2 linked regions of the Homo sapiens genome follow. The protein of the gene in region 1 purifies or fractionates together with the protein of each later gene. This does not show direct contact. Each region holds a gene or a part of one and is shown in the gene's direction. Other genes may lie near its edges.

The links. Proteins that work in one complex are often made in the same cells at the same time.
Region 2: the proteins of SIN3B (region 1) and SMARCA1 purify together in Homo sapiens (affinity purification with mass spectrometry, with the first as the bait; one large-scale study listed by BioGRID). This does not show direct contact.

Annotation. Positions count from the first base shown.
Region 1 is NC_000019.10:16,866,757-16,872,032, forward strand, and holds part of SIN3B (paired amphipathic helix protein Sin3b), read left to right. Parts: intron 1-2,703; coding exon 2,704-3,319; intron 3,320-4,472; coding exon 4,473-4,642; intron 4,643-5,276.
Region 2 is NC_000023.11:129,512,751-129,518,026, reverse strand, and holds part of SMARCA1 (SWI/SNF-related matrix-associated actin-dependent regulator of chromatin subfamily A member 1), read left to right. Parts: intron 1-1,529; coding exon 1,530-1,696; intron 1,697-2,032; coding exon 2,033-2,133; intron 2,134-2,239; coding exon 2,240-2,340; intron 2,341-5,276.

The DNA of each region.
Region 1 (5,276 bases):
TATCTGTTTGTTTGTTTGGAGACAGAGTCTCGCTGTGTTACACAGGCTGGAGTGCAGTGGTGTGATCTCAGCTCACTGTAACCTCAGCCTCCTGGGTTCAAGTGATTCTTCTGCCTCAGCCTCCTGAGTGGCTGGGACTACAGGCGCACACCACCACACCCAGCTAATTTTTATATTTTTAGTAGAGATGGGTTTTCACCATGTTGGCCAGGCTGGTCTTGAACTCCTGACCTCGTGATCCACCCACCTCAGCCTCCCAAAGTGCTGGGATTACATGCGTAAGCCACCGCTCCTGGCCGACTCTGCCATTGTCTAGCGAAGTCTCCGTCCCTCCCGTGGGGCAGTGATGGACTTTGGCTTAGGTAGTGGGTGGCAGCAGCCTTCATTTCTTTCTTGCCGACTGTGCCAGGCACCGGTGTTAGCAACACAGAAAGAGTAATGCATCATCTGACCTCACTCCTGAACCTGACTCTGCTGCGGCATTATTCTGATTTTACCAGTGGGGAAACTGAGGCACAAGAGGTTGCATTTGCCTGGGCTGGTCGCAGGGGGCCAGGGCTCTGAGTCATTGGGTTCGAGGCTTTCGGCTGCATGTCCTCACTGCAGGCTCACAAGGCCTGAGTCATAGAACCAAGGCCAGCGGGGCCCTCAGGTTGCCAGGAGCTGGGCCTGTTAGTAGCTGTGTGTAGGGAGTGCCTGCTTGCAGGATCCTGAGGTGGGAAGCTTGGCAGGGTGCCGGGCGTGGTGATAGCCAGCTGTCGGGAAGGTCCTTGGACACTCTGAGGAGGTGGCTTAGGAGGGCACACTACTCCCCAGGCAGTGCCCAGATCATGGCACGGGCTGCGTTATCAGCCTGGTGCCCACCTGGGCAGGGGGTGTTGCCTCACCTGATTTGGTTTCTTGCTCCTGTCACTGCACAGTGAGCGGTCGCTCCTTCTTTTACAACACAGAAACGGAATCCACAGGAGCCGGGCTGCTGGCCCAAGGCCTCTCCCAGAGCCTGTGGGACTGTGGGGACCCCCTTCCCTCCCACCTCCCTTCCCGTGGGCCACCCTCGCCCCAGGCCCACCCACAACCACTCTGGCTTCCTCACTCTAGTCCTCGGCGATCCTCAAGCCCAAGACCCCGTATAGGTTCTGTGGGTCTGTGGTGTCTGCAAAGTGCAGATGATGAAGTAGCCCTGGAAATCCACCAATGCGACCCTGAGTTCCTGGATCCCTCCCTGGGGCTGGGGCTGACAAAGGGAGGGGCACCAAGGTTCATATGCAGATCTCTGCACATGCAGGTCCTTGATGAATTCCAAAGTCAGAACCCCATTCCATCACGTGATTTACAAAGCATGGTTACAGATCATGGACATGGGGACCCTGCTTCAGAGGGGACTGTAAAGGAATTTTCAGAGTGTTTATGGCATAAATGAGACCTGGGGGACTTAGGAAGCAGTCAGAGGGCGATGGTCACACTGAAGAGCCCAGAGCAGGGCTGAGCGTGCAGACTCCTAGGAACCAGGTCAGTGTGCTTGGCCCTACCAGCCTCTAAGCCGCCTTGCAGGGGAGGAGGAAGGGAAACCTCAGGCTGCTAGGAGACCCGGTCCTTCCCTCGGGAGCCTGCAGAGATGGCATCCACGCTCATTTTCCCCAAGAGCCCTGCTGCGTCTGCCTCCCTGCCTTGGACTGAGGGGGTTGGGGCTGCCCAGCAGAGGCCCTGGGTGCCAGGACAGTGGTGTGGGAGGCTGGAGGAAGGGGTGATTGTCTAATGGTGTGAGGGAATGAAAGTCATGATCTAGATAAAGACCAAGGGGAGGGGTGAGCCTGGGACAGGGTTTTCCAGGGAGTGAGAGCAGATGGGCATGTGCAAAGGCCCTGCACACGCAGGAGGGAGCTTGGCGCGGTGAGGCTGGAGGAGCTGTGGAGGGGCACATCAGGGGCCGGCGTCTTCTGAGCAGCCTGGGAAAGCCTGAAGGGCATTAGTTGGGGTGACCATGCTCCTGTGGGCCAAGTCACCCTGGACCCAGTGAGGAGAGTGGTTGGAGCAGGCTGGTGGGAGCTGGTGGGAGGGCTGGTGACATGATGGTGGTAGCAAGCACGTGCAGGGGCTGGCGGGGACAGCAGCGGAGGCGGGGGCTTGGTGACGATGGGCGTGCAGGTCTTCAGATGTGAGCAGTTGCAGGCCTTCCGGGTAGTAGATGGAGGGCAGAGGCAGAGAGGTCACGGCTCACCCTTTGCCTCCTTGACTTCATCGATAGCATGGTGTGGGCAGCCCCGGTCGAGCTGGAATCAGGCGCCACCGTTGCTTTCAGTAGGAGGAGGTCAGCCTCAGAGGCTTCTCCATGCTGAGCCACGGGGCCCCGTTCTGTCCTGGAGCTGGGCTGAGCGACAGACCCAGGCTTGACGCTGTCAGACCCCCTGTGAACCCCGCCCCACATCTCAGAATCCTCTTGGCTCCTTTGTCTGGGGTCCCGGGATGACTTGGGTCTGCCTCACTTTCGGAGAGGGGACCAGGAGCACATGGGGCTGCACAAGAGGTTGAGGCAAGCGACCTACCCCCCAGGCCCTGCTGCCTCACCGATGTTCGCCACCCATCCTGCTCTGGGCAGCGCTCATCCACCTTGGTGGCCCAGTTAACAGCGAGTCGTGAATGGGCACTGGGGGTCCTCTGGGTGCTGGGTGGCTTTCCACCTAATGGCCGCCCTTCCCCCCACAGCACCAGGAGCAGCACTCGGAGGGCCGCAGTGCCCCCTCTAGCGAGCCGCACCTCATCTTTGTGTACGAGGACCGGCAGATCCTGGAGGACGCAGCAGCGCTCATCAGCTACTACGTGAAGCGGCAGCCGGCCATCCAGAAGGAGGACCAGGGCACCATCCACCAGCTGCTGCACCAGTTCGTGCCCAGCCTCTTCTTCTCTCAGCAGCTGGACCTGGGCGCCTCCGAGGAGTCAGCTGATGAGGACCGGGACAGCCCCCAGGGGCAGACCACAGACCCCAGTGAGCGGAAGAAGCCGGCGCCAGGACCCCACAGTAGCCCCCCAGAGGAGAAGGGGGCCTTCGGGGATGCCCCGGCCACTGAGCAGCCACCCCTGCCGCCCCCAGCCCCGCACAAGCCCCTGGACGATGTCTACAGCCTATTTTTTGCCAACAACAACTGGTACTTCTTCCTGCGCCTGCACCAGACCCTGTGCTCCAGGCTGCTGAAGATCTACCGCCAGGCGCAGAAGCAGCTTCTGGAGTATCGGACCGAGAAGGAGCGGGAGAAGCTGCTGTGTGAGGGCCGCAGGGAGAAGGGCAGCGACCCCGCCATGGAGCTGCGGCTGAAGCAGCCCAGTAAGGCTCCAAAGCCTGCCGGGAGGCCCCGGGGGGTGCCTGGGGTTAGGGGTCACAGCTCATGATCTGACATGTCCTGTTACTTTTCTTTCTGGCTTTTCATTTTAAGAGAATTCTGTGATTTCAAATGGGAAATTGCAAACAGGAAGTTGCCAGCATAAGACAGAGGTCTCACGTACCCCTCGCCCAGGCTCCCCTGGCCGTGGCACCTGTCCTGGGTGTAGCACCCTCTCCTGACTGGGGAACATTTGTTTCTCATGGGCTTTCTCGTGGAGCCGTCATGGCCCAGCTCCACAGTACCCTTTTTCTTTCTTTTTTTTTTTTTTTGAGATGGAGTCTTGCGCTGTTGCGCAGGCTGGAGTATAGTGGCAGGATCTCGGCCCACTGCAACCTCCACTTCCCAGGTTCAAGTGATTCTCCTGCCTTAGCCTCCCAAGTAGCTGGGATTACAGGCGCTCACCACCATGCCTGGCTCATTTTTTGTATTTCTTTTTTGAAATGGAGTCTTGCTCTATTGCCCAGCCTGGAGCACAGTGGCATGATCTCGGCTCACTGCAGCCTCCGCCTCCCAGGTTCAAGCAATTCTCTGCCTCAGCCTCTGAGTAGCTGGGATTACAGGCACCCACCACCATGTCCGGTTATTTTTTTTTTGTATTTTTAGTGGAGACGAGGTTTCACCATCTTGACCAGGCTGGTCTTAAAACTCCTGACCTTGTGATCCACCTGCCTCGGGCTTCCAAAGTGATGGGATTACAGGCATGAGCCACCGCGCCCAGCCCAATTTTTTGTATTTTTAATAGAGACAGGATTTCACCATGTTGGCCAACCTGGTCTCAAACTCCTGAACTCAGGTGATCCGCCTGCCTCAGCCTCCCCAAGTGCTGGGATTACAGGCATGGGCCACCATGCCTGGCCTCCACAGCATTCTCGCTGCCATCCCTGGGTTGCCGGCCAGATTAGGCAGCCTCGGAGGGTGGCAGTGAACACCAGCTACTCGGGTTTCCTGGTGATTCCCACATTTGCCCCAGGGGTGGCAGGTGAGGGCTGTTGGGCCCCATGGGGGCATTTGTTGGGGCTCTGTCATGCCAGAGTTTGGCCTGCGTGACTTTGCGCTCTCCAGGAGGCATATGGATGAGGCGGTGTGTCTCCGCAGGTGAAGTGGAGCTGGAGGAGTACTACCCGGCCTTCCTGGACATGGTGCGGAGCCTGCTGGAGGGCAGCATCGACCCCACGCAGTACGAGGACACCCTACGCGAGATGTTCACCATCCATGCCTACGTGGGCTTCACCATGGACAAGCTGGTGCAGAACATTGCGCGGCAGGTGAGCCGGGCCGGGGTGGGGCCGGCCCTGAGGACGGCGGAAATGGCTCTACCATCATTTCACTCCCCGCTCGGGAGGGGGCCCGTGGTCAGCACAGCAAACCTATCCTGTTTTTTCTTAATTGAGACAAAATTCGCATAACGTAAAATTAACCATTTTGAAGTGTACAGTTTGGTAACATTTGGTACATTCACAATATTGTGCAACCACCACCTCTGTCTAGTTCCAGAACATTTCATCTTTCCAAAAGGAGACCCCATCCCCATCAGCAGCCACTGCCCATTCCCCTGCCCCGAGCCCCTGACATCCAGTCAACTGCTTTCTGCCTCTGTATTTCCCTCGTGCTTCATTCCTTTTTATGGCTCTGTAATACTCCATTGCGTGGGTAGCTACGTTTTGTTTCTATCTCTTGGTGGACATCTGGGCTGTGGCTGCCTTATAGAGATTGTGAGCAATGCTGCTCTGAACATTTGTGTACAAGTTTTTGTTCCGTGTCCCTGTTGACAAACCTTTCTTGAGGTTAAATTGACAACATGGAAAAAACCTTAACCCACTTATCCTGAGGGAGGGTGGGAATAGTGATTTCATCTGCGTTGGTTTTAGTAGTAGCAAAAACCCAGGCCCCACTGAATGT
Region 2 (5,276 bases), on another chromosome or scaffold:
CTGTGGCTTTGTGACCTGAGAGAAATCCAGTCACAAAGCCAGATTGACGTATTTTTGTTTCTTTCTCCTTCTTTGGACATATGAATAAATGCTACACATTAATGAAATGTGTAATATGTCAATACACTTTAAAGGGAAGAATATTTGTCCAATGCATGAAGATATCACATATTTAAGCAGCATAATCTTAGTTATACTTACATATTGCTTGCTATAATACATTTAATTATTTAATTTTTAGTTACTAAAATACATATTTTAGCTTTAATTTTAACTAAACTCTTATAACCTTGGATCTTTCAAGAATTTAACAGGTGGTTGAAATGGATTTTTTTTTCCTCTGAGGGGTTGTTTTTGCAGTAATATTATAAAAATAAGTATAGATGAAATATATTTTTTGGTTGTTGATAGCTATTTTATAAGACTTAATGTTTAAGGCCACATCTAATGTAGGTAGGCAATGTTTTAACAACTCTAAAAATAACATTCCAGTGAGGATAATATAAAATGGAAAGTTTTTGGCCTCCTTCCAGCTTGTAGTCTGAATTTATCTAACTCTTATGTTTATGTTAATGAACTCTTCTGTAAGTTTTCTGGGTTATTAATTATGCATCCTTCATTAGCAATCAAGTATTCTCTACTCTGTGGTTGGAAAGTGACTTTGAATAAATAAATAGTCTTTATTTTTTCCTTTATCTAGAATGATGTATATATCTTTTGATCTTTTAAGATTTTTTTAGTGAAACAAAGTTTTATTGCCTGTATATGGTACACGTTCCCTGACCTTTTACAATTTATTGAGAAATTAGAATACATATCAACTTTTAATAGTTAATAAACTATTTCACATATATGTGCATATGTTTATATATTTTTCCCAAATTCTGCTTACTTTGGGGAGAAAGTTTATACGCTACTAGCACAAAATACAGTTTTCTAGATCCCTGTGAGTGAAGAGAGGAGTGTTTATTACATTACTATACCATGACACTGAAAATATTTTGAGACAAGATGATACTGTATTTTAAGATTTAAGTTATTTCTGGATACAACTTGGAAATTCTTAAGAGTTCAGTTTATGGTATATATATCATAGTTAATTTATATTTCAATATTTGGGATATGTTATATATTTGATGCTTAATTTTGTTACTATTTTATTTAATAAAATGATGTTTTGGAAAGAGGATTTGCTTTATGATTATGACTCTTTAAGAAGGGTATTTCTTATTGGGGAATTTACTGTCTGTCAGATAATTTTTCTTCCCTTCAAACTATTTGAAAATACATTTTCAAATTCTGCTGCTTATTAGCTGTGCAAGGTTGGGCAAATTACTTACCCTCTCTGTGCTTCAGTATCATGTAGTTACAATGGAGATGATACTTGTAATTACGTCATAGGTTTCTTAAGAGAATTGAATGGATTAATGTTTCAAGTGCTAAGAATGTTGTTCAAAGTAAGTATTTGTTAAATAACTTTGAAGGAATGAAAAGGAAAGTCCTTACTTTTCTTTTGTTTTGCAAATTAGAAAGCCGACCGAGCAAAGAGATTTGAATTTTTACTGAAGCAGACAGAACTTTTTGCACATTTCATTCAGCCTTCAGCACAGAAATCTCCAACATCTCCACTGAACATGAAATTGGGACGTCCCCGAATAAAGAAAGATGAAAAGCAGAGCTTAATTTCTGCTGGAGAGTATGTTGGCACCTCTCTCTCTACTTTCTTTCCTTTCTCCTACCTTTTCTTCCTCCTGTCCTCCCTTGATCCCTTCATGCACCCCTTCGCTCTTCATTGTTCAGTATACCTTCATGTGACAAAAAATATTGCCATTATAATTATGTTTTGAAGACAACTATATTTTTTTCTCACTAGAGGCTGATCAGTAAAAATGTAGGCTGGTTCTACTGATTTCTAAGCAAGACCTTGGACAACTCATTCTTTTTCTATAAAAGATAATAGCCATGTACACTGATTTAATTGATACCTTATCATTTAGGTCGAATATGAAGGGATTTCCTTTTTTAATTTCAGCTACCGCCATAGGCGCACAGAGCAAGAAGAAGATGAAGAGCTACTGTCTGAGAGTCGGAAAACATCTAATGTGTGTATTAGATTTGAGGTGTCACCTTCATGTAAGTACTTCATCACATTGGTGAGTTCTTTTTCAATTTAGTTTTAGAAAAATTTTACTTGAGTATGTTAATGAAAGTATGAAATGTCCTTGCATTTTTTCACCAGATGTGAAAGGGGGGCCACTGAGAGATTATCAGATTCGAGGACTGAATTGGTTGATCTCTTTATATGAAAATGGAGTCAATGGCATTTTGGCTGATGAAATGGTAAGGAATTGGTAGCTAAAAACACATTCTCAGTTATCAATGATTTTTATGTAAATTTGAAAAACCTGAGCTTACCTGCCCCCCTGATGCCTGGAGGCTTTTTAAAAGTTGTTATCATGTAAAAGGTATTTTGTAGTCTTAGAATTATTATTATTTTTTTGAGAGAGGATCTCTTTGTGTTTCCAGGCTTGAGTGCAGTGGTGCAATCTCGGCTCACTGTACCCTCGACTTCCTGGGTTCAAGCGATCCTCCTGCCTCAGCCTCCTGAGTAGCTGCGACTCCAGGCACGTGCCCACCACACTGGGCTAATTTTTATTTTTATTTTTAGTAGAGACAGGTCTCGCCACGTCACCCACACTGATTTTGAACTCCTGGGCTCAAGCAGTCCTCCCACCTCGACCTCCCGAAGTGTTGGGATTACAGGTGTGAGCCACAGCACCCAGCTAGAATTGTTTCGTTAAGTCACCGCTAGAACACAGACTTTCACAGGCCATAAAACTCTTACTGAGCTTTCCTCAAATGGTCCAAAAACCTTCTCTGTACTTTTGTTTTTGTTTGCATTTTGGCTTCCAGGAAGCACAGAGTCAAGATGGATGCCCAAATGATGCCTTTATGTAACTTTTTTTTTAAAATTTTTTGAGATGGAGTCTCGCTCTGTCACCCAGACTGGAGTGCAGTGGCACGATCTCAGCTCACTGCCACCTCCACCTCCCAGGTTCAAGCAATTCTCTGTCTCAGTCTCCTGAATAGCTGGGGTTACAGGCGCCTGCCACCACGTCCGGCTAATTTTTTTGTATTTTTAGTAGAGATGGGGTTTCACCGTTTTGGCCAGGCTGGTCTTGAACTCCTGACCTTGTGATCCACCTGCTTCGGCCTCCCAGAGTGCTGGGATTACAGGTGTGAGCCACCCCCACCCTGGCCTTATGTAACCTTTAATGGTCTGCCCTGTGTGTCCTTCTGTCTTTTCCTATTCTTTATCTACTTGTCTTTCTTACTTTCCTTGTCGTCTCTTTATTTCTATTTTGCCATTAATTTATGTTCCATGTTTTCATTGTAGGCTACCTGAAATCCTTTTGGGAATAAGGTGGGGTATACAAACCAAACAATATGTAAATGACTGCCTGAATATATGCATGTGTGAATGATTATCAATATTTTGACTTGTGAACAATCAAAAAGTGCATAGGTGGAATAAGGAACGAATAAAGAGTAATGTTGAATCTTGATACAGTACAGTGCATGGTGGGGCTTTGGAAATCAGTGAAGGAGTTATAAATGTGTAAATAAAATAACTGAACAGGAAAAAGTAAGGCATATAAGATGCTAATTCATCAGCTAAAGGGGGAATACATGAAGGCTTTTTTTTTTTTGAGACGGAGTCTCGCTCTGTCGCCCAGGCTGGAGTGCAGTGGCATGATCTCGGCTCACTGCAATCTCCTCCTTCTGGGTTCATGCCATTCTCCTGCCTCAGCCTCCCGAGTAGCTGGGACTACAGGCGCCCGCCACCGCGCCCAGCTAATTTTTTGTATTTTTTTAGTAGAGACGGGGTTTCACGATGGTCTCGATCTCCTGACCTCGTGATCCTCCCGCCTTGGCCTCCCAAAGTGCTGGGATTACAGGCGTGAGCCACTGTGCCTGGCCCCATATTTGTATTTTAAGACCAAATTAATAAAATGCGATTTAAGAGAGGGCAGGGAAAGTTCTAAATCCATATAACTCAATGATACTCATATTTATGTGACTCTGAAACCATACTTGTAATCACTATTATCCAGAAGAGCCACATGATGATACGTGCCCTATGGCGTCTAGTATAGTTGGTAGTCAGTCGCATAAGTACTCATCCCTGGTTGAGCAACTGTTAGGTGTGTGGCAGAGGATCCCTTAAAGCAAGGGTCTGTAGCTCCTTATATTTAGGTATTCTAGTTTGAAGACTGTTGTCAGCTCAGAGGGGGAGGAGCTTGGTTAATTGGACAATGGAAGGACCAGGATTATTTGCCCCAAGCAGCTCTTGGCTTCAGCCTGTCTAAACATGAAGGATCTGATCTTTAGTGATGAATTTGTGCTGATATCAGATATATGTATTATATATATAATATATAATATATAAATATATATAATATATACTTACTTTTTTTAATATATATATATAATTTTTTTTTGAGATGGAGTTTTGCTCTTGTTGTCCAGGCTGGAGTGCAATGGCGTGATCATTGCTTACTGCAACCTCCACCTCCCGGGTTCAAGCGGTTCTCCTCCCCCAGCCTCCCAGGTAGCTGGGATTACAGGCGCCCACCACCACGCCTGGCTAATTTTGTATTTTTAGTAGAGATGGGGTTTCACCATGTTGGTCAGGCTGTTCTCAAACTCCTGACTTCAGGTGATCCATCTGCCTCGGTCTCCCAAAGTGCTGGGATTACAGGTGTGAGCCACTGCACCCAGCCGATACCAGATATGTTTTAATTACTAAAAAATAGACACTTTTAAGGAGTATAGAAAATTTGGAAAAAAATGAATAATTAAAATTAAGTTATAATTCTGCTACTTAGAAGTAACCACAGCTAACATTTTGGCATATTTCATTTTAGTCTTTTTCTTCTGGATGTACTTATTTTGTATAGTTGAAATCATATTGTATATATAATTTGGCATTCTGATTTATTTACATTCATACATATGTTCCATGTAATTAAGACATTTTCCGAACATAATTAATTATTGCATAATAATCCTTGGGCGGTACCATAATTTTATTCAACTTCTCTCTTATTGCTGTTCATTTGGATTGCCCGATGTGTAGTGTAAATAATGCCACTATAAGACTCTTGTAATTTAGTTTTTGTGCACCTCTCAGATTATTTCCGTAGGATTCCTAGAAGTAGAATTACTGGGTTAAGGAGTATAAACATTTTAAGGTTTTGATGTATAGTATTCAT